Linked DNA regions of Homo sapiens. Changing the gene in region 6 together with the main gene of any one other region gives a genetic interaction. Each region holds a gene or a part of one and is shown on either strand. Other genes may lie near its edges.

Evidence for each region.
Region 1: changes in SPPL3 (region 6) and ZNF714 together harm fitness less than expected from each alone (positive genetic interaction), as found in Homo sapiens cells (one large-scale study listed by BioGRID).
Region 2: changes in SPPL3 (region 6) and LRTM2 together harm fitness less than expected from each alone (positive genetic interaction), as found in Homo sapiens cells (one large-scale study listed by BioGRID).
Region 3: changes in SPPL3 (region 6) and CA4 together harm fitness less than expected from each alone (positive genetic interaction), as found in Homo sapiens cells (one large-scale study listed by BioGRID).
Region 4: changes in SPPL3 (region 6) and NDUFA8 together harm fitness less than expected from each alone (positive genetic interaction), as found in Homo sapiens cells (one large-scale study listed by BioGRID).
Region 5: changes in SPPL3 (region 6) and TSR1 together harm fitness less than expected from each alone (positive genetic interaction), as found in Homo sapiens cells (one large-scale study listed by BioGRID).
Region 7: changes in SPPL3 (region 6) and NOA1 together harm fitness less than expected from each alone (positive genetic interaction), as found in Homo sapiens cells (one large-scale study listed by BioGRID).

Annotation. Positions count from the first base shown.
Region 1 is NC_000019.10:21,095,703-21,099,202, reverse strand, and holds part of ZNF714 (zinc finger protein 714), read right to left. Parts: intron 1,019-3,500; 5' UTR 935-1,018; coding exon 892-934; intron 392-891; coding exon 293-391; intron 1-292. UniProt on the Homo sapiens protein: May be involved in transcriptional regulation.
Region 2 is NC_000012.12:1,819,161-1,823,364, reverse strand, and holds the start of LRTM2 (leucine-rich repeat and transmembrane domain-containing protein 2 precursor), read right to left. Parts: upstream 2,801-4,204; 5' UTR 2,551-2,800; intron 1-2,550.
Region 3 is NC_000017.11:60,152,973-60,156,472, forward strand, and holds part of CA4 (carbonic anhydrase 4 preproprotein), read left to right. Parts: intron 1-2,341; coding exon 2,342-2,395; intron 2,396-3,500. UniProt on the Homo sapiens protein: Catalyzes the reversible hydration of carbon dioxide into bicarbonate and protons and thus is essential to maintaining intracellular and extracellular pH. May stimulate the sodium/bicarbonate transporter activity of SLC4A4 that acts in pH homeostasis.
Region 4 is NC_000009.12:122,149,780-122,153,279, reverse strand, and holds part of NDUFA8 (NADH dehydrogenase [ubiquinone] 1 alpha subcomplex subunit 8), read left to right. Parts: intron 1-871; coding exon 872-1,035; intron 1,036-3,500. UniProt on the Homo sapiens protein: Accessory subunit of the mitochondrial membrane respiratory chain NADH dehydrogenase (Complex I), that is believed not to be involved in catalysis. Complex I functions in the transfer of electrons from NADH to the respiratory chain.
Region 5 is NC_000017.11:2,326,458-2,329,957, reverse strand, and holds part of TSR1 (pre-rRNA-processing protein TSR1 homolog), read left to right. Parts: intron 1-482; coding exon 483-615; intron 616-747; exon of another isoform or gene 748-833; intron 834-3,500. UniProt on the Homo sapiens protein: Required during maturation of the 40S ribosomal subunit in the nucleolus.
Region 6 is NC_000012.12:120,765,185-120,768,358, reverse strand, and holds part of SPPL3 (signal peptide peptidase-like 3), read left to right. Parts: coding exon 1-34; intron 35-765; coding exon 766-965; intron 966-1,986; coding exon 1,987-2,096; intron 2,097-3,174.
Region 7 is NC_000004.12:56,967,607-56,971,106, reverse strand, and holds part of NOA1 (nitric oxide-associated protein 1), read left to right. Parts: intron 1-2,591; coding exon 2,592-2,723; intron 2,724-3,500. UniProt on the Homo sapiens protein: Involved in regulation of mitochondrial protein translation and respiration. Plays a role in mitochondria-mediated cell death. May act as a scaffolding protein or stabilizer of respiratory chain supercomplexes. Binds GTP.

The DNA.
Region 1 (3,500 bases), on a different chromosome or scaffold from region 6:
CTGTCTCAAAAAACAAAACAAAACAAAACAAAAAAAAACAGTGTTTTTCAAAATTATGCAGATATTTGTGTGTTCACCCAAGGAAAAGGAAAATTCTTAGAGAATTTAAAAGCATAAGACAGAAGATGCCCTTTAGTGAGAGAAAATTTTAAGAAAATATTCAGTCTTCCCAGAAACTATATACTTTGCAAAACAGCTTCCCAAATCACATTGTAAGGGCCGGCTTGCTTTTTTTTTTTTTTTACCTTTGTACCTCTCATCTGTGTCATCTGTTGTGTTCACTCTCACCTACCTGGGGATTCATCCACCATCTCACATATCTTCATATTCCAGGGCTCTTTTTCTTGCTCTAGACTGGTGATCGGGTCTTGCTTAGAGACAGCAATACCTGCTTTATTAAAAGTAAATAGCATAAATCTTGCTTATATTCTCTAGTTACCAACCTAGTACTGTGCTCAGTAAAAAGGATATAATAGAATATTTTAGAAAATTAATCCTAAAATACTAATTAATGAGACACATCTCTAACTATTTAGAAAATATTTTAAATTTGTAGGTCCTTAATTTCACTACCTGGTACTCATGAATCAAAAATTGACAGTGGAAAATAGATTTTAAGATACGGGCAATATTTTATGCCACCAAATTTCTGGAATTACCACTAATCTAGAGTGAAGGATGCAGATCAGCTCAGGAATGTGGAAAGTTCAGGTCAGGATGAAACATGTTGAAGAAATTCTTTTCTACAGAGACAAATCATCAAGATTTTCTTGAAAACTGGGATCAGAAACTCATTTATACAAAGCATAAATTACCAAAGAAAATTCTACAAAAAAAGAGACATAAAACGTTTAGGGTATATTAAGACTTATGTATTAAAGTTATTCTCACCCAAGAAGACCAGGTTTTTGTAGTTCTCTAACATCACATTCATATATAAATTCTGCTGAGCAGGGTTCAGGCATTCCCACTCCTCCAGAGAGAATTCTATGGCCACATCCCTAAATGTCAACGTCTCCTGAAAAACACATACGCACAGACACACGTATATTTACCAAGTGGCCATGGGCAGAATTTATTATTTGAATTAAGGTGAAATGAGAGAGTAAAGAGAATTGGTTGACTTATAAGAATAACTGAAATTATCCAATAATTTTTAACACAGAAATATTCTCTAATGTATTACTCTGAGGGCAGAGAATGGCATAAGATCCACAACACCAGTGCATATATAATACTTTTCTGGATGATAAAGAATATAATTAAGGACACAAACGTATACATTTTTGAGTGCTATATTTACATCATAATGAGTTGTGTATATTTTTCAGACAAAAAAAGACATGTTGAGTTAGATGGTACCTCTCAAATTTAAATATGTACAATAAACTGGAGATCCTGTTGTGAAGCTTTTTTTTTTTTTCCCCAGAAGATCTGGAATAAAGTCTGAGTTTTTAAAATTCTAACAAGGTTACTAGCAATGCCAATGTTTTTGACCCCAGAAGACTATTTTGTCAGACATTCAGTAAGTGAAAGAGATTGTGTTTTTCCCAACTTTTTTGGTCTGTAAACAAAGATAAGAGCCTTCATTTTCCAAAGACACATATGTGCAAAAAACAAACAAAAAAACCTAAGAAAAAAGGGCAGGTGCCAGATTAAATGTGATAGTTTATTAGCTACATAAAGATACTTAACAATAAAGAGAAAAACAATTAACTCTATAGTGAAAAAAAGTCAGAGAGCTCTTTAACCAAGCAAATTATTAACATCAACAACACTAGAATAAATTTTTATGATGTGCTGATGCACAAAGAAGAACACAACATCACTGCTGAGATATTGCCCCTCAAAAAGTCAATTATAGACTGAATTTAACCATAAAGAAAAAATCAGTTTCATGCGAAGGTCAAGATATCTCCCATGTTCTATAATTTTTAGTAATGATTTTAAGTAGTCCTTTCTTTAGCATCCTAGAAAGCAGGTATCTCTGAATAATTTTCTCCAGAACTTCCTGGGTAATAAATGCTATCCTGAACAGGCCGGGCGTGGTGGCTCACACCTGTAATCCCAGCACTTTGGGAGGCTGAGGCAGGCGGATCATGATGTCAGGAGATCAAGACCATCCTGGCTAACACAGTGAAACCCCGTCTCTATTAAAAATACAAAAAATTAGCCGGGTGTGGTGGTGGGCGCCTGTAGTCCCAGCTACTTGGGAGGTTGAAGCAGGAGAAAAGCATGAACCCAGGAGGCGGAGCTTGCAGTGAGCTGAGATTGCGCCACTGCACTCTAGCCTGGGCAACAGAGCGAGACTCTGTCTCAAACAATAAAAATAAATAAATAAATAAATAAATGCCATCCTGTTTAAATAAGCATATTCTTAATCCTGTTCTGCATAGAGCTAATGGAGAACACAAGCGACACCTCAACATTATATGTTCTCCATCTTTACTAAGGACCCCAGCTTTCCCCCAATAGGAATCTTGAGTATCCACATCTTCCCATGTTCAGCAGCCACAAAAGGAACACTTTTAATATGGCAGATCATAAATTCATGGTAGGAATTCTGCATTGCATATAAGAAGCCATGATGTAGAGAAGGCTCTCGTACATAGGATAGAAATATTTTTTAGAGATCCTTGACTATCACAAGAATTTTTAAAAGTATGTGAAACAAAATCATTGGGGAGGGAAAACAGAAGTAGAGAAGTAAAGGTTTGCAAGTACTAAACTCATGGCACTCCAGGAGGCAGAGTGGACACAGCTCTTGATCTGAGATATGTTTAGCTGAAAAGAAGCATTTTTCCTCTTTCTCCTCCTCTAGAAATCCTTTTCAGATAAAATTCTCTGGACAAGTAACACCTGCATCTTGAGACAAGTCCCTTAAAGGCATCAGCACCACCTGCTTACCTACTAGCCTCACACTCACAGACAGAAGGACCAAGACCAAAAAGTCCACTCATCTTTCTCCTTTATAACAGAAGAGATTCAGGAACAATGAGTTGCTCCACGGAAATAAAAATATATGTTCCTCTTTTACCGTCCACAGGTGCCCTCCCCTGCCACAGACACCAACAATTTCTACTACAGTAATGAAAATATGAAAATATGGGCCACTGCCCTGTCCCTACCAAACCCAAACAGAACAGGTCCTGAAGCCACCCTTTAGTGCAAATGTGGCACTTAACTCTCAGGAATGTATCTTGAAGCCTTCATACTTGATTCTGGCCTCACCATAGAGTCATATGAGGCCCTGGAGTTTCACTGTCTTACCACACGTATCTACATGTATCATGATGAAGATACCAAAAGCAACTGCAACAAAAGCAAAAATTGACAAATGGGACCTCTTGGGGTGATCAGACCCAACATCAGGTCGTGGGGGTGACAAAGTCCGGTGGAGTCAAAGGATTGAGAAAAAAGACAGTTTGAGATATAAAGGTGGGACACCAGGCTAGGCGCGGTGGCTCACGCCTGTAATCCCAGCACTTTGGGAGGCTGAG
Region 2 (4,204 bases), about 120 Mb from region 6:
TCCATGCACCTGCCCCTTCCATTTCTCCTCAGATGGAGGTTAATTAATCAGTCTCAGACTCTAGCTAGAAACCTCCAGCACACTCACCACAGACCTGGTGTCCGCACCCTTCCTCTCAGGCTTCTGCGCATGTCTATCCCTCCACATCAAGCATCCAAGACACACAGCCAGATAATGCCCATCGGGCCTCCACCTCTGAATTCCTGACTCCTGGGCCATCACACTAGCCCTAGGGTGTGCCCACTCCCCTGGCATCTCCCCTTGGTCAAGAGTCCATACCCCTCAGCATGGAAGAGTCACAGAACTCAGGGGTAAAGGGGGCATTTGCAGCCTACTCTGCCGCCCCCTTCACTCTGCAGAAGGCCAGAGAGAAGCAGAGCCACGACTGGGCCCACACCCTGGGCCTGCAGGGGCCGTGCCCTTCCACCAACCCCAGGAAGGCTGAGAGGGAGCCCGGAGAGTGGCCAGCCAGAGCCCCGGGCCAAAGACGGCCCGAGATTCCATGTGGCCAGGACGCAGGGGAGGCTGCCACAGCCGTCTAGGCTGGGCTCCGCCTACCGCTGCCTGTCTGGGCACCCAGGCCCTCTAGGACAGCTGCCCATCACCCCCATCACACACACTGCCCAGGCAGCAAGGAACCAGGTTTTAAAAATCTCTATATTTGTACTTGGAACAGCCATATACCCTCCTGGTTCATTTTAAAACACATGCCCCATCCTCACCCCCAGCCTCCTGCACCCCCGTTTCCTTGTCAAATATTCTCAATCTCAAACAGACCCTCTGGGAAGCAGAACAGAGAAGCCTCCTGAGTGGCCCCTCATGGGAGCTGGTCCCTGACATGAAGGAGGCTAAGGTGTCCACTGGGCCCTGGGGCCGGGCTCAGGGTGGTGTCCCTGGGGCTGGGCTCAGGGTGGTATTCCCAGGCAGGGCACAGGAGGCTTGGCTGGGGGAAAAAGGAGGAAGACCAGAGGGGCAGACAGCCTCTATGCTGGCTCCTTTCTCCTCTGCCCACCCCCAGAACTCCCAGACACCCCCAACCATCACATACATGCCATCCCCTCCTCCTTCCTACACTGCCCACTGAGGCCATAGCAGCCCAGAGGCGGCCCCTGGGCTCTGGTGCCTGGGAAACGGGAGCAGAGTTTGCTCCTCGTGGGCCCAGACAAGCTTCTGTCAAACCCCAAAGACACCAGATCGGCTGCTTAAGCAGCCTCTCTCCTTACCCCTCCCCGCGGGCCTGGCTTTCCTGGTCTCCCTCTTTTGGCAGTGCTGAGACTTTCTTTCTGCCGGTGGGGAGGTGGGGGTGGGAAAAGCTGGGCTCTTCTTGGCAGCTCGGAAGCTGCTGTCGGGTTTCCCTACCAGCTGGACTTCCCCCGCCTCAGCTCCACGTGCTCGGCTCCCTCCCCGCCCCCACCTGAGGCAGTTATCTAAGCTGCAGGGGTGTCATCTGAGTCACAAAGAGACACTGCCCAAGTAGCCCTGACAGCCGGGTGCCAACACCCCCCAGAAATGTGGACAGCTTGGGGGTGGGGGAGAGACAGGGCCGCCAACTGGAACCCAGCCCCAGACCTGCAGGGAGGTGCAGGAATGTGAACTTCCGACTCCTGGTCAGGCTGCTCCTCTCTCCAGCACTGTCCAAATGGGTCTGGGGGATTGAGAGCAACTGTCCCGCTCTACTCAGGGTGTCCATGCCCCCTGTGTGGGTCAAGAAGCCAGGCAGGCCTGGCCCCGCTGTGTACCCCCCACCCAAGCTCAGTGTCCAGCCCCCACTAAGGCTCCCTGACCCATTTGCAGATGGACGGCTGGGTGCACAGCTGCGGGACACCCCAGCAGGTTCTCGCGGGCCTGGTTCTCCTGTCTTGCCCTTGGGCTAGCAGGGAAGGGCTGCGATACTTCTCTCTCCTGCCCACTCCCAGCCTCACCCTCACCAGGGAGGCTTCATGCACAGCTGAGTGGGCCCATGCTCATCTGGGGGAGGGTTCCTCCACACCCTTGTCCAAGGACAGCCACCTGCAGGCAAGCTATAGGGAGGCCCAGGACCTGGGTCTGTGCCCATGCCTCTGACATCCAGGACCTCCTCCCTGCCACCCTCCACCCCAAGCCTTCCTCTGACCTGGCCCTGTCCCCAGCACCTGACTGCCATCCCAACCGCTTCCCATGACCCCCGAGTTTCTTGGGGCTGTCTGTGCAGAGCCGGGCACAACGACAGCACAAGGCTCTTGGCTGCTTCTCCCATGCTGCAGGGACCGGTTTCTATGCCACCCGGGACTGTCATCTGGCGCCAGCGCTGCCCTCCTCCCCACTTCCCAGCAGAATCCACAGCTCTTGTCCCCAGCACTGTGGGCTCAGAGTTCCCAGTGTCGTGCACCTTTGGGATGCTCAGGTGCCTGAGCCCGAGCAGCTTCTTCGGCCCCAGCAATTGCCTGCAGGTAGGAAGCAACTGCAGCTATTCCTGCAGGGCAGAGATGGCCGGTGCCCACTTCCCATGCCCCGACCACCCCCTGTCCCCACCAACCCTCCATTCCTTCCTACCAGCCACTCGGTACTCACCCGTCTTTACTCTGACTGCAAACGCCTTCAATCAGGTGGCTCTCAACCCTCCAGTAAGACCCTCCTGGGATTCCTATAGAAATCCAGACACCACCGGCAGGCAGAGCGCAGTGGGCACTGGTGCCAGAGTCTCCACTCAGCGGGAGCAGCGGCTGGCACGCAGCACACAGCACCAGGAGGTGGACTGCTTGTGGCAGACGGGGGACGGGGCTGCTGGGTCAGTCACAAACTGAGAAGGAAAGAGAGGGATGGAGGGAGAGAGAGAGAGGAGAGAGGGAAGAAAGGGGCGAGGGAGGAGAGCGCACGCGTGTGCGCGAGCAGCGAGCCAGAGTGGAGCGGGGAGTGACAGCTGGGGTGCATCTGTGATGACAGCGGCAGCAGCACACACAGGCGCACACCAGAGGCACCACGGCCGGCCGCGAGGGCAGCGCTCACCCTGGCCACGCTCACATTTCAGTGGAAAAAGGCGCCTGTGGATGAATCGCTGCCGACCACAGGGAGGAGGAAAGCGGTTTCACCACCACCTCCATCTTCCATCCTGCGCCTCCAGGCTCTCCCTCACCCCCCCGGCTGCACCTGTCTTCTGTGCCTCTCTCCTCTCTTCCCCTCCATCTGGGGAAAGAGGGACAGGCGCAGACACAGAGCAAGCGGCTGACTTCTGTTCCGATGGAGGCCCCCCTGGGAAGCTGGTCTTTCTCCTGTTTTAGAGACATGCGAGGCAGAGTCTCCCATCCTGCCTGAGAGAAGGAAAAACCGAACCCTTCTCTCGGTCATACGAAAGAAGGGTACACAGGCATGTCCATGTGCCAGATGACCCTACAGGAAAGGGCCCTGAGCCCCCACAAAGCCAGGGATCACATGGTCATGCAGAGGTCACTGAGCCTCAGGGTCTGACCACCCGACGCCAGGACTACTTAGGGAAGCAGAATGCCAGAGTTGGCAGGCTGGGAGTTTGGGCACAGGGCAGCCTGCAGCAGCAGCCTGCAGACCGTTCTCAGTGCCAGGGACGAGCTTGGCTTCTCAGGGCTCCTTGCTCTTATCTGTGATGGGTCAGGCATGCGAAGGGAAGAGACTGTCATTCAAGAACTTGGAGGCCTCTTTCTTAACCAATCAGGACAAAGCAAGTCAGAAAAATTGATATCCTAAGAGATGGGAAGTGGCTGATCTGAAGGCCAAGTGAGTCAGGGACCAAGCTAGAGGGGAGCCAGGGCCCCACCAGCCTGGAGCACGAACCCTAAATCCCCCTTCCTTTGCGTCCACTGCCTGTAGACAGATGAAGCACCGTGCTAGCGATATATCACCGTGTCCTATGTCCCTCTTCCATTTTGCCTGCTTTGCTGGAGGGGTTCACAGCCAGGACTGGGGTGGGTGTAGAAGAACCCCCTGGACTCAGGATGCCCCTAGAAGGATGCTCCTGCTCACTCCCTTCTGTCCGTTCTGCCGGGTCCCCGGGCAGCACAAGGCTTGAGCTGCAGTGTCTTTTACCTCTGGGGAGTCCCGCCTCTGACCTCTCATGCTGGTGCCTCCCACACATCCCACTGTCAAGCAAAAGAGGCTCCCACCTCCCCATAAACATACTTCCTGCTTCTCCATCTCCATGAAAGCGTGTTCTTCCCTGGGCCTGAAATGCTCTCCTGCCCATGGGTGGCTTCCC
Region 3 (3,500 bases), on a different chromosome or scaffold from region 6:
AGACCCAGACTTGGGAAGGTCCAGATACTCCGATATCTGGAGAGCAAAGGCATTCCTAATTTTGCTTTAAAAATAATAATGTTGGCTGGGCACGGTGGCTCACACCTGTAATCCCAGCACTTTGGGAGGCCGAGGCGGGTGGATCATTTGAGGTCAGGAGTTCGAGACCAGCCTGGTCAACATGGTGAAACCCTGTCTCTACTAAAAATACAAAGATTAGCTGGGCATGGTGGTACATGCCTGTAATCCCAGTTACTCAGGAGGCTGAGGCAGGAGAATTGCTTGAAACTGGGAAGTGGAGGTTGCAGTGAGCCAAGAGCCCACCACTGCCCTCCAGCCTGGGCAACAGAGCGAGACTCTATCTCAATAATAATAATAATATCAATTCTTGGATAATGTAGTAATTAAGAAAATTAATCCTTTATCACAAACCCTTGTAGCAGAGCACATGTCCCCATATATACAACGCATTGAATGCATTCCTTCCTTCTCTGACTTTTGGGAATGTCCTACTCTGTCTATGGAGTAGCTGTCCTTTCACCACTGTACTTTCTTAATAAACGTGCTTTTCCTTTGCACTGCAGACTCAACCTGAATTCTCTCTTGTGCAAGATCCAAGAACCCTCTCTTGGGGTCTGGATCGGGACCCCTTTCCTGTAACATGCCTTCTGTCAGAGGAAGATTATGGGACTCAGAATGTCAGATAACTCCCCTGTGGAGACTGAGCAAAGGCAGAGCGGGAGCTGGAGGCTTCGGAGCTCTGCCCCACTGCTGGGGTGGCGAGTGGCCACTGCCCTCTGCAGAATCCACCCACATGGGGGTGGTTCAGGTGCAGCAACTCCCAGGGACAGCAGAGCCCTGCCCGGGGCTGGGGATGGGCCATCAGGGGGAGGACACTGCAGCTCTGAAAAAGGCGATGCCAGCAGGGAAGGAGAGGCAGTGATCAGGGCAGGGAAACTCCAAAGCCCAAAGCAGCTCTTCGTGGCCAGTTAGTTTTCCTGGGGATGCTCCCTCATGGCTCCTTCCCCATCCTGTCCCCACTCCGGGGACTCTACCCTGGCTTAGACTACAAGAAGATGGGACTGTGGGGGCAGCCCAGGCAAGAAGGGAGAGGGTGGATGAGCTCAGAGACCTCAGCTTTGGCTGAGTGGGAACCGTGCTTTTCTTAGGAATTTCCTCATCTTGATTTCTTTCCAAGTCACTTCATTTCTCTCCTCTCTCGGCCCCTCCTTGGCTTTGGCCATCTGCTCCCAAAAGGAGGCCATGGGGTGGGTGGGAGGGGTGGGGGGGAGGGAAGGAGTTGTCGATGGGATTTTACTAAGTGCCAAGCCGCCTGAAACCTCATTTAATCCTCCCCAAGGCCCTATGAGGTGGGTATGTTTGTCTCATGTTACAGATGATACAACTGAGGCTCAGAGAGCTTAAGGGACTTGCCCCCAAACCCATCTAAGCCCCCTGAGCGGCTCAGCCAGAATTCCAAGCTCTGGATGAGATGTTGTGTTCGCCCTGCTGGTGCAGCCTTTTAAAAAAATTAATAGACTTTATTTTTAGAGCAATTTTAGGCTCACATAAAAATTCAGCAGGAAGTACAGAGGGTTCCCATAGGCCCTTCTGCCCTGCATGCACTTTCCCCTCTTATTAACATCTTGCATCCATGTGGGACATTTGAGGTGCAGCCTTTTTTTCAGAGATGCTGGGTTCTATTGCCCTGAGGCAGAGCCCTCAGCCTGTCCCCAGAGATCAGGACTGTGCGGTTGAGGGGCAGGGGAGGAAGCCTGGCTGCTTTCCTCCTAGCGGGAGCTGTGAGACGCTAGCCAAGAAGGGATCTTAGTAACACAGGGTGAGACATTCTGGGGAGGGGCCGCCTAATCTCCTCCCTCATCTTGGATCTGGGAAGGCTGCCCGGTTGAACCTGACTCTATTGTCCCAGGAGCGGAGGCTGGGCCAAGTCCTCCTCTTCTCCTCTCACCAGCCTCTTTTCCAGGTTTGGGGTGGGGGAGGTAAGCGCGGAGGAGGCTGCTGGTGACCAAAGGATGGAGTATCCAAGCCAGCCCCATGTTAGAGATGAGTGGCCTCAGAGGGCTTCCCTGGAGGGCCAGTGGCTGCTTGGCCTGGCCCTGCCTGGGGAACAGAGCCCTATGCCAGCTGACCTGTTGATCAGCCCCTGCTTGGTTTTCAATTGAGTCTCTTTTTCTGGGCCCTCAATCCTGCTGCCAGGAACACTCCATCCCAGCCCAAGAGGGGCTCCAACCCCAGGGGTAGGCCCAGCCTCTGATCCTCCTGTGTGTGTGAGCAACAAGACACACGCACGCACACTTCACACCCTTCCTCTCTGCTCCAGAGTCACACTGGTGCTACGAGGTTCAAGCCGAGTCCTCCAACTACCCCTGCTTGGGTGAGTACAGCCAGTCCAGGGGACTGCTCTTTGTGCATGGTGGGCACCACGCAAGCCGAAATGGAGACCCCGGAAGAGTGGGAAGGGGAGGGGTGATGGTGGCTTCCCAGGCAGATATCAGTTCCCAGCATACACACACACACACACACACACACACTCTCTCTCTCTCTCTCACACACACACACACACAGATATACAAACACACACACTCACACAGAAACACACACACAACACACACACAAGCACACACTCAAACACTCACACTCACACATGCACACACACACTCACACTCACACAAACCCACACTCACTCACACACACAAACACACACTCACACTCTCCTGTCCTGGTGCTCAGGGACCAGGGAGCATAGAGTGACCTGAGTCTTCACTGGCACCTGCTGTCATCGAGAGGGCATGTTCCCTGTGGAATAAATCGGTAGCAGCATTAAAGGAAGAAAGGCGTTTTGCTGTTTCCCATAATAAAACGGGGAGTTGTTTCTATCCCAGTGACACCCCTTGCAGGGTGCCTGAGTGATGGTCCTTTACGCTTTTATTTGAATGCTGACCAATTCGAATGCAAACCCTGCAGTCTGCTGTGTTTTGGTGACTGAGCAGTGCTGCCCGCTCCTGACCCTGGCCCACCTGGTGTTGGGGTCACCAGGGTTCGGGGAACCAGCTCCTCCAGGGTTACTCCTCTCCCTCCCATTCCTCAGATGATGCTCAGCGCCCTTCATCAGCAGCCCCCCCGGGGGTCCCACTCCACAGTTTCCAAAGCCCTCTCCATCCACCTCCTTTAAACTCTCTGACATCCCAGGGAAGCGGATTATCTCTGCAGTTCCCATTTTACATTTGGGAAACCCAGGGCTTGGAGAGGCCATGTGCACCACCTCATGAAGTTGTCCCTACCCCGGAGCTCACAGTCAACAGTTGGCAACCCTGTTCCCACCCTGTTCCACACTGGGGCTAGACTCCCCAGCCTTGCATGTATGTTTCTGTGGAGGAGGAGGAGGAGGGCCCAGGGAGGGCGAGAGTGGAGTTCGGAGCTGAGCATCCCTGCAGCACAGCCTTCAGGCCACCCCAAAGCGTTTCTGTGTGGGAACTGAG
Region 4 (3,500 bases), on a different chromosome or scaffold from region 6:
TTTTTTTTTTTTTGAGACAGAGTCTTGCTCTGTCACCCCGGCTGGAGTGCAGTAGCATGATCTTGGCTCACTGCAACCTCTGCCTCCTGGGTTCAAGCAATTCTCATGCCTCAACCTCCCTAGTAGCTGGGATTACAGGTGTGCACCACCACGCCCAGATACATCTCTAGTATCTTTACTAAAGACAAGCTTTCACCATGTTGGCCAGGCTGTTCTTGAGTTCCTGGCCTCAAGTGATCTGCCTGCTTTGGCCTCCCAAAGTGCTGGGATTACCTGTATGAGCCACTGTGCCCAGCCTTATATATCTATTAATTTTATTCCAGCAGCAGAAACTCAGCAAAGCTCTCCAGAGTTGGTTCCTCTCCCTGCATCCCAGAAGACTCCATCCTTCTCTACACCCCTTTTCTCTCTACCATAAATAAAGATTCTATTAGGGGTGCCATTTCTTCTGCTCTAAAATGGGAATATTAATCTCTTCATGAGACTATTGTAAAAGTGAAGAAAATAATATATGTGAAAGAGCTTTGCGTTCTCTAAATCACCATAGATTTTAAAGAATCGCTGGGCGAGGTGGCTTATGCCTGTAATCCCAGCTACTTGGGAGGCTGAGGCAGCAGAATCGCTTGAGCCTCGGAGGCCGAAGTTGCAGTAAGCCGAGATCGCGCCACTGCACTCCAGCCTGGGGAATGGGAGTGAAACCCTGTCTCAAAAAAAAAAAAAAAAATTATTATTATGACAGTGTTTAATTTTCTTGGTAAAGTCAGAACAGTGCTACTTTTGTGTTCTCTATTCTGACCCGCATGAGGTAAAGCTGAGAAAGTGGTATTCTGGTTCACAGTCTGTGGCCTTTGTCCCATCTTTCCTTTCCTAGGTGAAAATTAGTTCTGCTGTGCTTAAAGCTGCGGCCCATCACTATGGAGCTCAATGTGATAAGCCCAACAAGGAGTTTATGCTCTGCCGCTGGGAAGAGAAAGATCCGAGGCGGTGTTTAGAGGAAGGCAAACTGGTCAACAAGTGTGCTTTGGACTTCTTTAGGTAAAAATCTTTGGTATCAGTGCCTACTTGGTTGAAGCATAAAGGTTTAAATGAATAAGTGAACAGCCAGCTAATAATCTGGATTTTATTAGGAAGTACATAGGCTTTGAAATCAGACCAAGGTAAAACATTCAAAGGATGATAATTATTTTTGGTTTTGTTTTTATTATCTGGCAAGTTCTTTTATCTCCATGAATCTCAGTTTCCAAATTGTAAAATAATACCTATCTAGGTTTGCTAAGCAAGTGACTGGTGACCATTTTTGCTACAGCAAGGGGAAAGTCTTTTTGCTGTGAAAAATTTGAAAAGGCACGTAAAACAACCTATCACAGTCCTTTTTAAGCAGGCATTCACTAGGTTGTTGTCATTACTACAGAACACAGGTATGATGGAAAGAAAACTGTATGCGGAGTTAGGTTTTACGTAGGTCATTGTGCATGATACTTAAGTAAAAAAAAACTAAGCTGTGTAATTGTAGGAAAATGTTTTAACAAGCATATTAGCACTCTATTTAAAAGGAGAGAAAGTCAACTCAAAGGAAATTGGCTCTTGTAACTCTGAAGTCCAGAAATAGGCCTGGCATCAGGCAGGGCTGGATTCAAGGGCTTAAATAATTTCACAACTACTTGATGTCTTTTTGCCTCTCCTCTTTTCACAATCTCTTAGTTCTGGTTTTCTCTGTTGACCTCATTTTGGAAAGACTCTCACCTTGCTGTACCAAAAATGGCCACCAGCCACTCGAGTTGCTGTTCTGTTGATACTTGCTTAGCAAACCTAGACAAAGTGTGCCCTTTATCCAGAAGTGAGCAGAAGCTCCTGGACTGAGTCTAATTGTCCTGGCTGGCGGACTTCGTATACATATCATTGCATCACTTGTGCTTCAGGAGATAAAAAGCTCTGATTGCTCAGGCCTGAGATGGGGAGTGGACTTAGCTTCATCCAAACCACATTGCTGAGAGACAGGGAGGGGTTGTTCCCAAAGGAAAATTAGAAGGATGTTACGGAAGAATGGGGAATGACTGCTGGCTAGGCAGAAACCACCGATGTCCACTACAATGAAGTTAGAGAAAAAAAATAGATACCTTAGCACAGTAGCTGCTTTCCTCCTTTCTTGCTTCTGCTGTCTCTGTCCCTATGCAAAGATATTTTTGTGGTTATAATCATAGTATGTATACATTGAGAAATTCATTTTTCACTTGATATTATTGGAAACACTCTTCGAAGTTGCTATATAGTCTTCATGATCATCTTTTTTTTTTTTTTTTTTTTTTTTGAGACGGAGTCTCACTCTGTTGCCCAGGCTGGAGTGCAATGGTGTGATCTTGGCTCACTGCAACCTCTGCCTCCTGGCTTCAAGCGAGTCACATGTCTCAGCCTCCTGAATAGCTGGGTCTACAGGCCTGCGCCACTATGCCTGGCTAATTTTTTTGTATTTTTGGTAGAGATGGGGTTTCAGCATGTTGGCCAGGCTGGTCTTGAACTCCTGACCTCAAGTGATCCGCTCTCCTTGGCCTCCCAAAGTGCTGGGATTGCAGGTGTGAGCCACCGCACCTGGCCGTGATCATCATTCTTAATGGTTATATATTATTCCATCAGTGGATAAACCAACCATAACGTACCTGACCAATTCCTGTTATTGAACATCATTGTTGATTTCAGTTTTTGATTATTTTGGATAAATCTGCAGTGATTACCTTTGCGTATAGATCATTTTCATCAGTTAATAATTCCTTGGCATAAATTTCCTAACAGTGAGTTTACTCTATAAAGGGCTTTGAACATCATTATGGCTCTTGAACTGTATTGCTTTTTTTTTTTTTTTTTTTTTTTTTTTGTGATGGGGTGTCACTCTGTCGCCCAGGCTGGAGTGCAGTAGCACGATCTTGGCTTACTGCAAGCTCCGCCTCCCGGGTTCGCGCCATTCTCCTGCCTCAGCCTCCCGAGTAGCTAGGACTATAGGGCACCCAGTACCACGCCCAGCTAATTTTTTGTATTTTTAGTAGAGACGGGGTTTCACCATGGTCTCAATCTCCTGATCTCGTGATCCACCTGCCTTGGCCTCCCAAAGTGCTGGGATTACAAGCGTGAGCCACCGTGCCCAGCAAATGCTTTTGTTTTTTAAATGTTGGATCAATTTATGCTGTCCTCAGCGCTGGATTCTGGTATGCATAGTATTTAAATATTTGGGAGGTGCAAATATTTTTGGATGTTTCAATTTGCATTGATTTGATTGCCAGCGAGATTGAGTCTGTGTGTGTGTTTATTTAAACAATTTTTCTTTTTTTTTTGAGACAGAGTCTCACTCTGTCACCCAGGCTGTAGTGCTGTGGCGTGATCTTTGTTCGCTGCAACCTCTGCCTCCTGGGTTCAAGCGATTCTCGTGCCTCAGCCACCTGAGTAGCTGGGATTACGGGTGTGTGCCACCTGCCTGGCTAATTTTTGTATGTTTAGTAGAGATGGGGTTT
Region 5 (3,500 bases), on a different chromosome or scaffold from region 6:
ACAAGAGCGAAACTCTTATGTCAAAAAAAAAAAAAGTTTATGCCAAAGTGCAGATCTCTTTTCTCTTGGTGGCCAGTAGTTGTGTATGTTGTGGGGTATGTGATAGTTCTTTGATCGGTTTTGGTAAGGGCTCAAGAAGAAGGGGCTTGAATGAGTGTGGTTTTGAGATTGTGGTGAGTGAATGCCTTGAAGGCCACTGATTTTTGTGTGGCAGATGTTGAGCTCTTTTCTGTTAGGTGCAGGAAGGTAGGTTAGCATTGAAGGGTGCATGAAAGCTCTGATCAGCCTGTGTTTGGCTTAAATGCCAGTCATTGGTGGAGGTAAAGGATGAACCCGTGTTTCAGCATCTACACTCCACCATTAATTAGCATTGTCAGTTCTTAGAATGAGTCTGAATCTGCTAGTTTGGTTTGCCTTCTTTCAGTTTAGGCAATTGTATTCCTAGACTATGAAGATTTTTGTTTTTCTTACTTGGTCCCCAGATGTCAGTATTGAATATGGTGGTGAGGCGTGACCCTGGCAACACTGAACCTGTGAAAGCCAAGGAAGAGCTCATATTTCACTGTGGATTCAGGCGCTTCCGAGCCTCACCTTTATTCTCTCAGCACACTGCAGGTTAGCAATGGGGAAGCTGGGTTCTTGTCCATCTTGTCTTTTGGGAAAGTGACTTGTGGTGGAGGGGTGCCAAAATATATGGTTTCAAAATCTTACATCTCTGGGTTAGAGGTATTTTCAGTACTCTGGCTTAAGAGCCAATGATGTTTTTATTCAAAATGTCTGAACCTGTCTGAAGCATCCCAGTGATGCAACTTCTGTGTGATACTGAGGCTTTTTTGCCATGAGTATTTGTTCCATAGCAGGTTTTGAATAGAAGTTGGCAGCTTTATAAAAAGGGTATTAGGGTGGGTGCAGTGGTGCAGTGGTTCACACCTGTAATCCCAACACTTGTGGCATTAGAACGGGGAATTGAAGACCAAAAAAGGTAAGATTTAATCTTGTTTTTGTTTCTGTTTTTTTTTTTTTTTTTTTTTTTTTTTTGAGACGGAGTCTCACTCTGTCGCCCAGGCTGGAGTGCAGTGGCGCGATCTAGGCTCACTGCAAGCTCCGCCTCTCAGGTTTACTTACACCATTTTCCTGCCTCAGCCTCCCAAGTAGCTGGGACTACAGGCGCCCGCCACCATGCCCAGCTAATTTTTTGTATTTTTAGTAGAGACGGGGTTTCACCGTGTTAGCCAGGATGGTCTCTATCTCCTGACCTCGTGAGCCGCCCGCCTCAGCCTCCCAAAGTGCTGGGATTACAGGTGTGAGCCACCGCGCCCCCTCTTGTTTTTTTTGTTTTTTTTTGTTTGTTTGTTTGTTTGTTTTTTTGGAGACGGAGTCTTACTCCGTTGCCCAGGCTGGAGTGCAATAGCGTGATCTCGGCTCACTGCAACCTCCGCCTCCCGGGTTCAAGCAATTCTCCTGCCTCAGCCTCCCGAGTAGAGTAGTTGGGACTACAGGCATGCACGACCATGCCCAGCTAATTTTTGTATTTTTAGTAGAGATGGGGTTTCACCATGTTGGGGTTTAGTAGAGATGGGGTTTCACCAAGACCAGGAGTTCAGGCTGGTTTTGAACTCCTGGTCTCAGGTGATCCGCCCACCTCGGTCTCCCAAAGTGCTGGGATTACAGACATGAGCCAATGTGCCTGGCCTCTTTTTTTTTTTTTTTTTTTTTGAGACCGAGTCTCACTCTGATGCTCAACTGGAGTGCAATGGTGCAATCCAGGCTCACTGCAACCTCTGCCTTCCAGGTTCAATCAGTTTTCCTGCCTCAGCTTCCCGAGTAGCTGAGATTACAGGCACCCGCCACCACGCCTAGCTAATTTTTGTATTTTTAGTAGAGACGGGGTTTCACCATGCTGGCCAGGCTGGTCTCGACCTTAGGCGATCCTCCTGCCTTGGCCTTCCAAAGTGCTGGGATTACAGGCGTGAGCCACTGCGCCTGGCCAGTCATTCTTTTATTGTTTCAAAATGGTTTTGATTTTTTTTTTTAGGATGAACTATTTTCATATTTTATACAGTTGGGAAAATAAGGAATAATGTAAAAGTAAAATTACCTTATATTAGAGAAAATTCATTTTTATTTTATACATTTTCATCCAGATCTCATTTTTTTTCTTTACACAATTTGGATTGTAATTGTAAATATGGTGTTAAACATTGCATTTATCACTTAATTGATTTTGATCAATTTTCCATAAGATTAATTAGTTAATGAGACTTTTAATGCTTTATTGTCATTTGGATATATTCCAGTGTATGTGATGTACTGATACTTATTTGAGCTTCTACGGGTGAGCACTTAGGCTATTTCTAATGTTTTGCTCTAAACTAGATCTGTATGCATAAAACTTTATTTACTTCTTTGCTTATTTTGTAAAGGCAGATCCTTAGAACTGGAACTAAATAAAAGTCTCAGTTGCAGAGACTGAGGCAGGAGGATCGCTTGAGGTCAGGAGTGTGAGACTCCGGTCTCTACAATTTTTTTTTTTTTTTTTTTGATATAGAGTCCAACTCTGTCACCAAGGCTGGAGTGCAGTAACATGATCTCAGCTCATTGCAGCCTCCCCGTCCCAGGTTCAAGTGATTCTGGCGCCTCAGCCTCCCAAGTAGCTCGGACCATAGGTGTCTGCCACCACGCCCAGCTACTTTTTGTATTTTTAGTAGAGATGGGGTTTCACCAAGTTGGCCAGTCTGTTCTCAAACTCTTGACCTCAGGTGATCCACGTGCCTTGGCCTCCCAAAGTGCTGGGATTTATAGGGATGAGCCAACATGCCCGGCCTCTACGAAAAAAAAATTTTTTTTTTTGGGAGATGGAGTTTCACTCTTGTTGCCCAGGCTGGAGTGCAGTGGCAGGATCTTGGCTCACTGCAACCTCTGCCTCCTAGGTTCAAGTGATTCTCCTGCCTCAGCCTCCCAAGCAGCTGGGATTACAGGCGTGTACCACCATGCCTAGCTAATTTTTCTATTATTAGTAGAGATAGAGTTTCACCATCTTGGCCAGGCTGGTCTCAAACTCCCGACCTCAGGTGATCCACCCGCATTGGCCTCCCAAAGTGCTGGGATTACAGGCATGAGCCACTGCGCCCGGCCAAAAATTTTTCTTTTTAATTAGCCAGGTGTGGTGGCATGTGCTTTGCAGTCCCAGCTACTTGGGAGGCTGAGGCAAGAGGGATTGCCTGAGCCAGTGGGCCCAGGAGTTTGAGGCTCCAGTGAGCTGTGTTCACACCACAGCCCTTAAAATATTTTATTTTCCTATAAGTTTAGTATTTTTAAAAGGGGGGTGAGGGCTACATTGAAGGTAGAACACCAAATACAGTCTAGCCTAGATAGCAGAGTGAGACACTGTCTCTCAGAATTTAAAAGGGTGTGATAAAGTGTGGAAACTTTGATGTCTAGTGTGCCAAGGGCAGTGTGGGTGAAGGAATGGAGGCTGGGTATGGCTCATAGTTGGGTAA
Region 6 (3,174 bases):
GCCTGTCTCTGCCTGGAAAACTGGTCTTCCCAAGGTAAGACCTCATGCTATGACAGGACCACACTGTCTTCCTGTGCCTATCTGTTCCCGGCCTTGATCAGTCTCTAATGTCATCAGCATTCTGATCCCAACCTGGGGCCATTATCTCCATGCTGCAGAAGAGGAAATGAGGATGAGATTCTTGGCTTGCCAAGAAGGATCACTGAGTGATCCAGGCGGTGCCTTTTATTATTGATTAATGTCAGCAAACAGCCATGCCTTACTGCTGTTTCCACTGTTTAGAGTTGGCTGGAGGGAGTTAGGAGAATCTCGATCCTTTTAACTTGTAAGATATTTATAAAAATAAGTTCTAATGGTAGAATTATACAACTCCTGGTAATATAATCTTGGCAGAATGAATGTGCTGCTTTAATCTTCCACCTGTAATAGTAGCCAGGTGCTTATTTGAAGTCTCAACAGTGAATGTGTCACAAATGATGAATTGTTTGACATTTCTAGAGGAAGCAGCACTTATGCAAATCACTTCAGCAGTCACTTCCAAGGGGCTCTCCTGAAACAGGGGGGCCAAGGTGGAGACCTCTAGTGCCAGTACTGTTGCAGCTTTTTCTCTCTACACTCTTAAAACTAATGTTCCATCAGAAGAGATTTCCATCTGCCATGCAGATAAGCTCTTTGACTCCTTAAAAAGCTAACAAACTTTGCACAAAAGGAATAGAAACTGGATTGTAGAGTGTGACGTCACTAACCTGTGAAACTGCATTCCAGCTCCACTGGCAGCCACTTCTCCATGTTGGGCATCGGAGACATCGTTATGCCTGGTCTCCTACTATGCTTTGTCCTTCGCTATGACAACTACAAAAAGCAAGCCAGTGGGGACTCCTGTGGGGCCCCTGGACCTGCCAACATCTCCGGGCGCATGCAGAAGGTCTCCTACTTTCACTGCACCCTCATCGGATACTTTGTAGGTAAGAGAACCAGAGAGACTGCAGATGATCCTCGCTCTGGCTGTCCTCCAACCTTTGGAATTAAATCAGGTCTTCTAGCTACAGTTACTGGATGGAAGGAGAGCAGGAATTCTGGGTGCTGTAATAGACAGCCTGGCCCGTGAGATGCTAAGTGTTTTGTGTACTGGATAGGCCAGTTCCCTCTCCAGCTGTGTATCTGAAGAACGTTGTAGGAAAAGCAGGTCAGTCCTCAAAGCCAAGGACACACAGCACACAGTGCAGTGGATTAGTCTGTGCTTAAATCTTCCTCTAGAGTTGAATGACTGTCGTATTTATTTCCTACTTTATTCAATAGATACTTACTTACATTCATTAGTTCTACATTTCTGCCACTCTGACCTAGGCCAAGTTTTGTAGCCAGCTCATGTGTAGGCAGACAGGAGATGATTGTGATGGGGCTGGGAAAAGCAGTAACCTGCCCGCACATGCAACTGCTCCCGCACAGTGACTGGAAAGGAGCTTTTGCACTCCGTACGTCCTCCTCAACCCCAGCACTGTCCTCGTCCCACAGCAGTTCATTCACATGGGTTCATTTCAGTCCACAAACTCAGAGGGGCAAGGCAAGTGGCATTATCCCCATTAGACAGATGAGCAAGCTGAGGCTCAGAGAGGTGGAAGGTCTGAACTACATTTATGTTAGCTATTGTGAGTAGCAGAGTTGGAACTTGAACCCAGGTCTTCTGCCTCCCAAGTCCAGCATCACAGGAGACAGAGGCACACTTGGAGCTGGAAGGAGGGTTTGAACCCAGGAACCTGAGCAAGGAGTGAGACTTGGGTCAGTCATGTGTCCTTGGAGTTGTAGGTGTTTTTTAAAGCTGTGCTGATCCACATTTCTTCAACTGCCCAAGCTGGGCATTTCACACCCCAACCATAGAATGGACGACAGCACATTAGATCTGTACAGTTGCAGGACTTTGCCCAGCAGCAGCCAGGTGACACGGGTTCCCTCTCGTGTCTCACAGATGCCTCTCTCTCCTCACAGGCCTGCTCACTGCTACTGTGGCGTCTCGCATTCACCGGGCCGCCCAGCCCGCCCTTCTCTATTTGGTGCCATTTACTTTATTGCCACTCCTCACGATGGCCTATTTAAAGGTGAGAGCAGCAGTTATAAACCTGTGAAAGCAATAACTTGGATTGGCCTGTGCCTCGGTTTGCACTCTCCTCGCTGGAGGTGATTCTGCTTAAGCCCCTGAGTGAGCTTGTGATCTCGACTGTGTGTGTGTGTGTGTGTGTGTGTGTGTGTGTGTGTGTGTGCGCGCGCGCGCTACCCTGGCGTTAGCAAACGCTTCCAGATTCGTGCAGCCACTGACAGAAAATGCTGATGAGCTAGACCACTACACCACCTGGTCGAGGAATAACTAATTGAAAGCCCCAGAGCCCAGCTGAGGGTACTTCCTGCTTCTGTTCAAAGCAGTGCCCTCCTGCCACCTAACAGCTTAACACTACGTTAAAGTTTGGGAATAATTAAGATTGAATAGTGTTGAGGCAGCATATGATAAAACCAGAGTTCAAGAGCACATTATTTCCCAGATATCTATTCTCAGCCCCGTTTTACAGATGAGGAAGCAGATACAGAGGTCAACTTACTTGCCCAGCTCACTTGACTCACTACCTCTAGAGAGTTGATAAAAGCCCTTTTCTTGCTCAGGGAGCCTAAAAGCACCCCTTCTAGGGAGTCCTCCTAAAAATAGTGGGTTATTTTTGAATGGGTAAGATTTAAATGCTCTTTGGTTTCCCACAGAAGCAATCTGATCTCAGATCAAGCATCAGAAAGGGGCCAGGGGCATGGTGGCTCACGCCTGTAACCCCCGCACCTTGGGAGGCTGAGGCAGGCGGGTTAAGAGTTCAGGACCAGCCTGGCCAATATGGTGAAACCCTGTCTCTACTAAAAACACAAAAATGAACTGGGCATGGTGGTGAGTGCCTGTAATCCCAGCTACTCAGGAAGCTGAGGCAAGAGAATCGCTTGAACCCAGGAGTCGGAGGTTGCAGTGAGCTGAGATCTCGCCACTGCACTCACTCCAGCCTAGGTGACAGAGTGAGAACCCATCTCAAAAAAAAAAAATATCAGAAAGGGGCCAAGCGCAGCAGCTCATGCCTGTAATCCTAGCACTTTGGAAGGTCGAGGCAGGAGAATTGCCCGAGCCCAGGAGTTTGAGACCAGCCTGGC
Region 7 (3,500 bases), on a different chromosome or scaffold from region 6:
CCCTCACCTCAGGTAATCCACCCACTTCAGCCTCCCAAAGTGCTAGGATTGTGGATGGGAGCCACTACGCCCAGACTAATTCTTCCCTTTCAGATGCTATTAGATCAGGCATAGCAGTTACTTCAGTCATATATCCTCTATTAAATAGTTGTGTCAGAAAGGCAAGAATTTGCAAAATACTCTAGACAGCAGAATGAGAACCCCAAATTTTTAGATATAAACGTCTGTCAGCACTGGTAGTTTGCTTCTCTGTTAGTTTACAGATAAACTTATTTGATGTCTTAAACCAGGGTTTCCCAGACTGAACCAAGGATCTCTGTTGTGAAATGAAAGTATTAAGACTCAGGCTGTGCACAGTGCCTCACACCTGTAGTCCCAGCACTTTGGGAGGCCGAGGTGGGAGGATTGCTTGAGCCCAGGAGTTTGAGACCAGCCTGGGCAACATGCCAAAACTGTATCTCTACTAAAAATACAAAAAATTAGCTGGGCATGGTGGTACATGCCTGTAATCCCAGCTATTGAGGAGGCTGAGGCACAAGAATCACTTGATACACTTATTGGGAGGCAGAGGTTGCAGTGAGCCGAGATCATGCCACTGCAGCCCAGCCTGGGCAACAGAGTGAAACCCTGTCTCAACAAAAAAGAGAGACAAGGTTTCCCCTGTTGCCCAGGCTGGAATGCAGTGGCGTGATCAAGTAACTTCAAAGTCCTGGGCTCAACCAATTCTCCCACTTCAGCCTCCCAAGTAGCTAGGGCCACAGGTACATACCACCATGCCCAACTAATTGTTTAGTTTTTGTAGAGACAGGACCTCGCTATGTTGCCCAGTCTGGTCTAGGCTGGAGTGCAGTGGTGGAATCTTGGCCCACTGTAACTTCTGCCTCCCTGGCTCAAGCAATCCTCCACCTCAGCCTCCAGGGTAGCTGGGAACTACAGACACACGCCACCCCAGCTAATTTTTGTATTTTTCATAGAGGTGAGGTTTTGCCGTGTTGCCCAGACTGGTCTCAAACTCCTGAGCTCAGCTGGGCACAATGGTGCATACCTGTAATCCCAGCACTTTGGAAGACCAAGGTAAGTGGATCACTTGAGGTCAGGAGTTCGAGACCAGCCTGGCCAACATGACAAAACCCCGTCTCTACTAAAAATACCAAAAAAATTAGCCAAGCATGGTGGCGCACGTCTGTAATCTCAGCTACTTGGGAGACTGAGACAGGAGAATTGCTTGAACCCGGGAGGCAGAAGTTGCAGTGAGCCAAGATCACACCATTGCACTCCAGCCTGGGTGACAGAGCAAGACTCCGTCTCAAAAAAAGAAAAAAACTCCTGAGCTCAAGTGATCTGCCTGCCGCTGCCTCTGAAAGTCCTGGGATTACAGGCATGAGCCACCATGGCTGACCTGCAAATGGCTTTTAATGTGCCTTTTCAAACACAAATAATGAAGAAAACTATCTGCAGCCCCCTTATTATTTTTTTGTGAGCTGCTATGTATCATTTCTATTTTTTATTTTCTTGTTATTCTCTTTTTTTCCTTTGAGACGGAGTCTTGCTCTATGGCCCAGGCTGGAGGGCAGTGGTGCAATCTCGGCTCACCACAACCTCCGCCTCCCGGATTCAAGTGATTCTCCTGCCTCAGCCTCCCGAGTAGCTGGGATTACAGGTGCACGCCACCACGCCCGGCTAATTTTGTATTTTTAATAGAGATGGGCTTTCTCCATGTTGTTCAGGCTGGTCTCAAACTCCTGACCTCAGGTGATCTGCCCGCCTTAGCCTCCCAAAGTGCTGGGATTACAGGCGTGAGCCACCGCGCCCAGCCTCTTGTTAAGAAAGAAGTTTACAAGTTTTGTGTCCAATTTGTACCTTCTTTATTCTTTTTTAACCAGATTTTGATTCCTTAAATCTTTGCAGAATCTTGTACTTCTGTCTTTCCTTTTCTATTTTTCTCTAGTCTCTCTAGGAACTTGTCATCCTTAGAAGGGATTTATTATAAATCATAGGGATAAATTATAAATCCTCTGTGTTATAAGCATAGGGGATTTATAACTTTTTCTCATTCTCTGCTGAATATTTGGGAGAAATAAGGAAATTGAAGACCAGAATTTAGAAAGAGGTTCTTCAGCCACTTTACTTGCTCCTAGAATGGGGTGACCATTTTGCATTTAATGCATGCATACTTACCACTAGGACATAAGGTCACGTATACCATTACTTTAAGCGGAAATTGCTACTGCCCACAAGCCTTGATAAGGAGAGCATATATTTTCTATCTTGGTATTGAATCAACATGTTTTCAGGTTCACATTAATTTTGACATTTAGGGAATGCTGCTGACATAGGAAAGTCTCATACACCTATAAAGTTATTTTGCCATTACTGTAGATTAAGTTGTAAAACAAGGGTAGAGCCATCAGATTGAAATTAATTTAGACAGGAAGAATCTATATAAATTTGATGCATAGCAAACTCTGACATAATTTGGTTTATTTTGAAGTCTGGCATATTTTTCATCACTTTTTATTTTACGGGTAAATCATAATATATCATATTTTCAATAAAAGTATTTTCTTAAAAATCTGCCATTTGCTTCACAGATTTTAAATCTTCTAACAGAAAAAGAAGTAAATATTGTTTTGCCAACACAGTCCATTGTTCCAAGAACTTTTGTGCTTAAACCAGGAATGGTTCTGTTTTTGGGTGCTATAGGCCGCATAGATTTCCTGCAGGTAAGAAAAGTCTGTACTATTAAAAAATGATTTTAAAATATTGGGATTCACTTTAAGGAAGCAGATGTATGAACACGACTGACAAAATGTTGATAACTAAGCCATGATTGTATTGGGTTTAATTTGTTTTTATGTTTAAAAATTTCTGTAATAAAAACTTGGGGATGGCTGGGCACAGTGGCTCACACCTGTAATTCCAGCACTGTGGGAGGCTGAGGCAGGCTGATCACTTGAGGCCAGGAGATCAAGACCCGCCTGGTCAACGTGGTGAAACCCCATCTCTACTAAAAATACAAAAATTAGCTGGGCGTGGTGGCACACACTTGTAATCCCAGCTACTAGAGAGGCTGAGGCAGGAAGATCACTTAAACCTGGGAGGCGGAGGCTGCAGTGAGCTGAAATTGCACCACTGCACTCCAGCCTGGGTGATGGGGCGAGACTCCATATCAAAAAAAAAAAAAAAACTTGGGGAAAAGAAATGCCCTACTCCCTCATCCCCCCAAAAAAGTGCTAGGTCTTGAAAACTTACGTTTTCAATTGAGTACCCTACACAGCTTGGCATTTAAGACAAGATACTATCCCTATTCTATGGGATAGAGTCAAACCTATGGGATAAAGTCAAACCTTTAGGTACAGGGTTATAGGCGTTAAATTAATTCCACACTTTGTATACCATGATATGTGTGTTTTTATGCATACACGTTTTTGTTTGGTATTCGTTTATATAGCATCTAGGGATTTTGGAGTGTCTATAGAATTGCTCTCCATTTTGCTAAA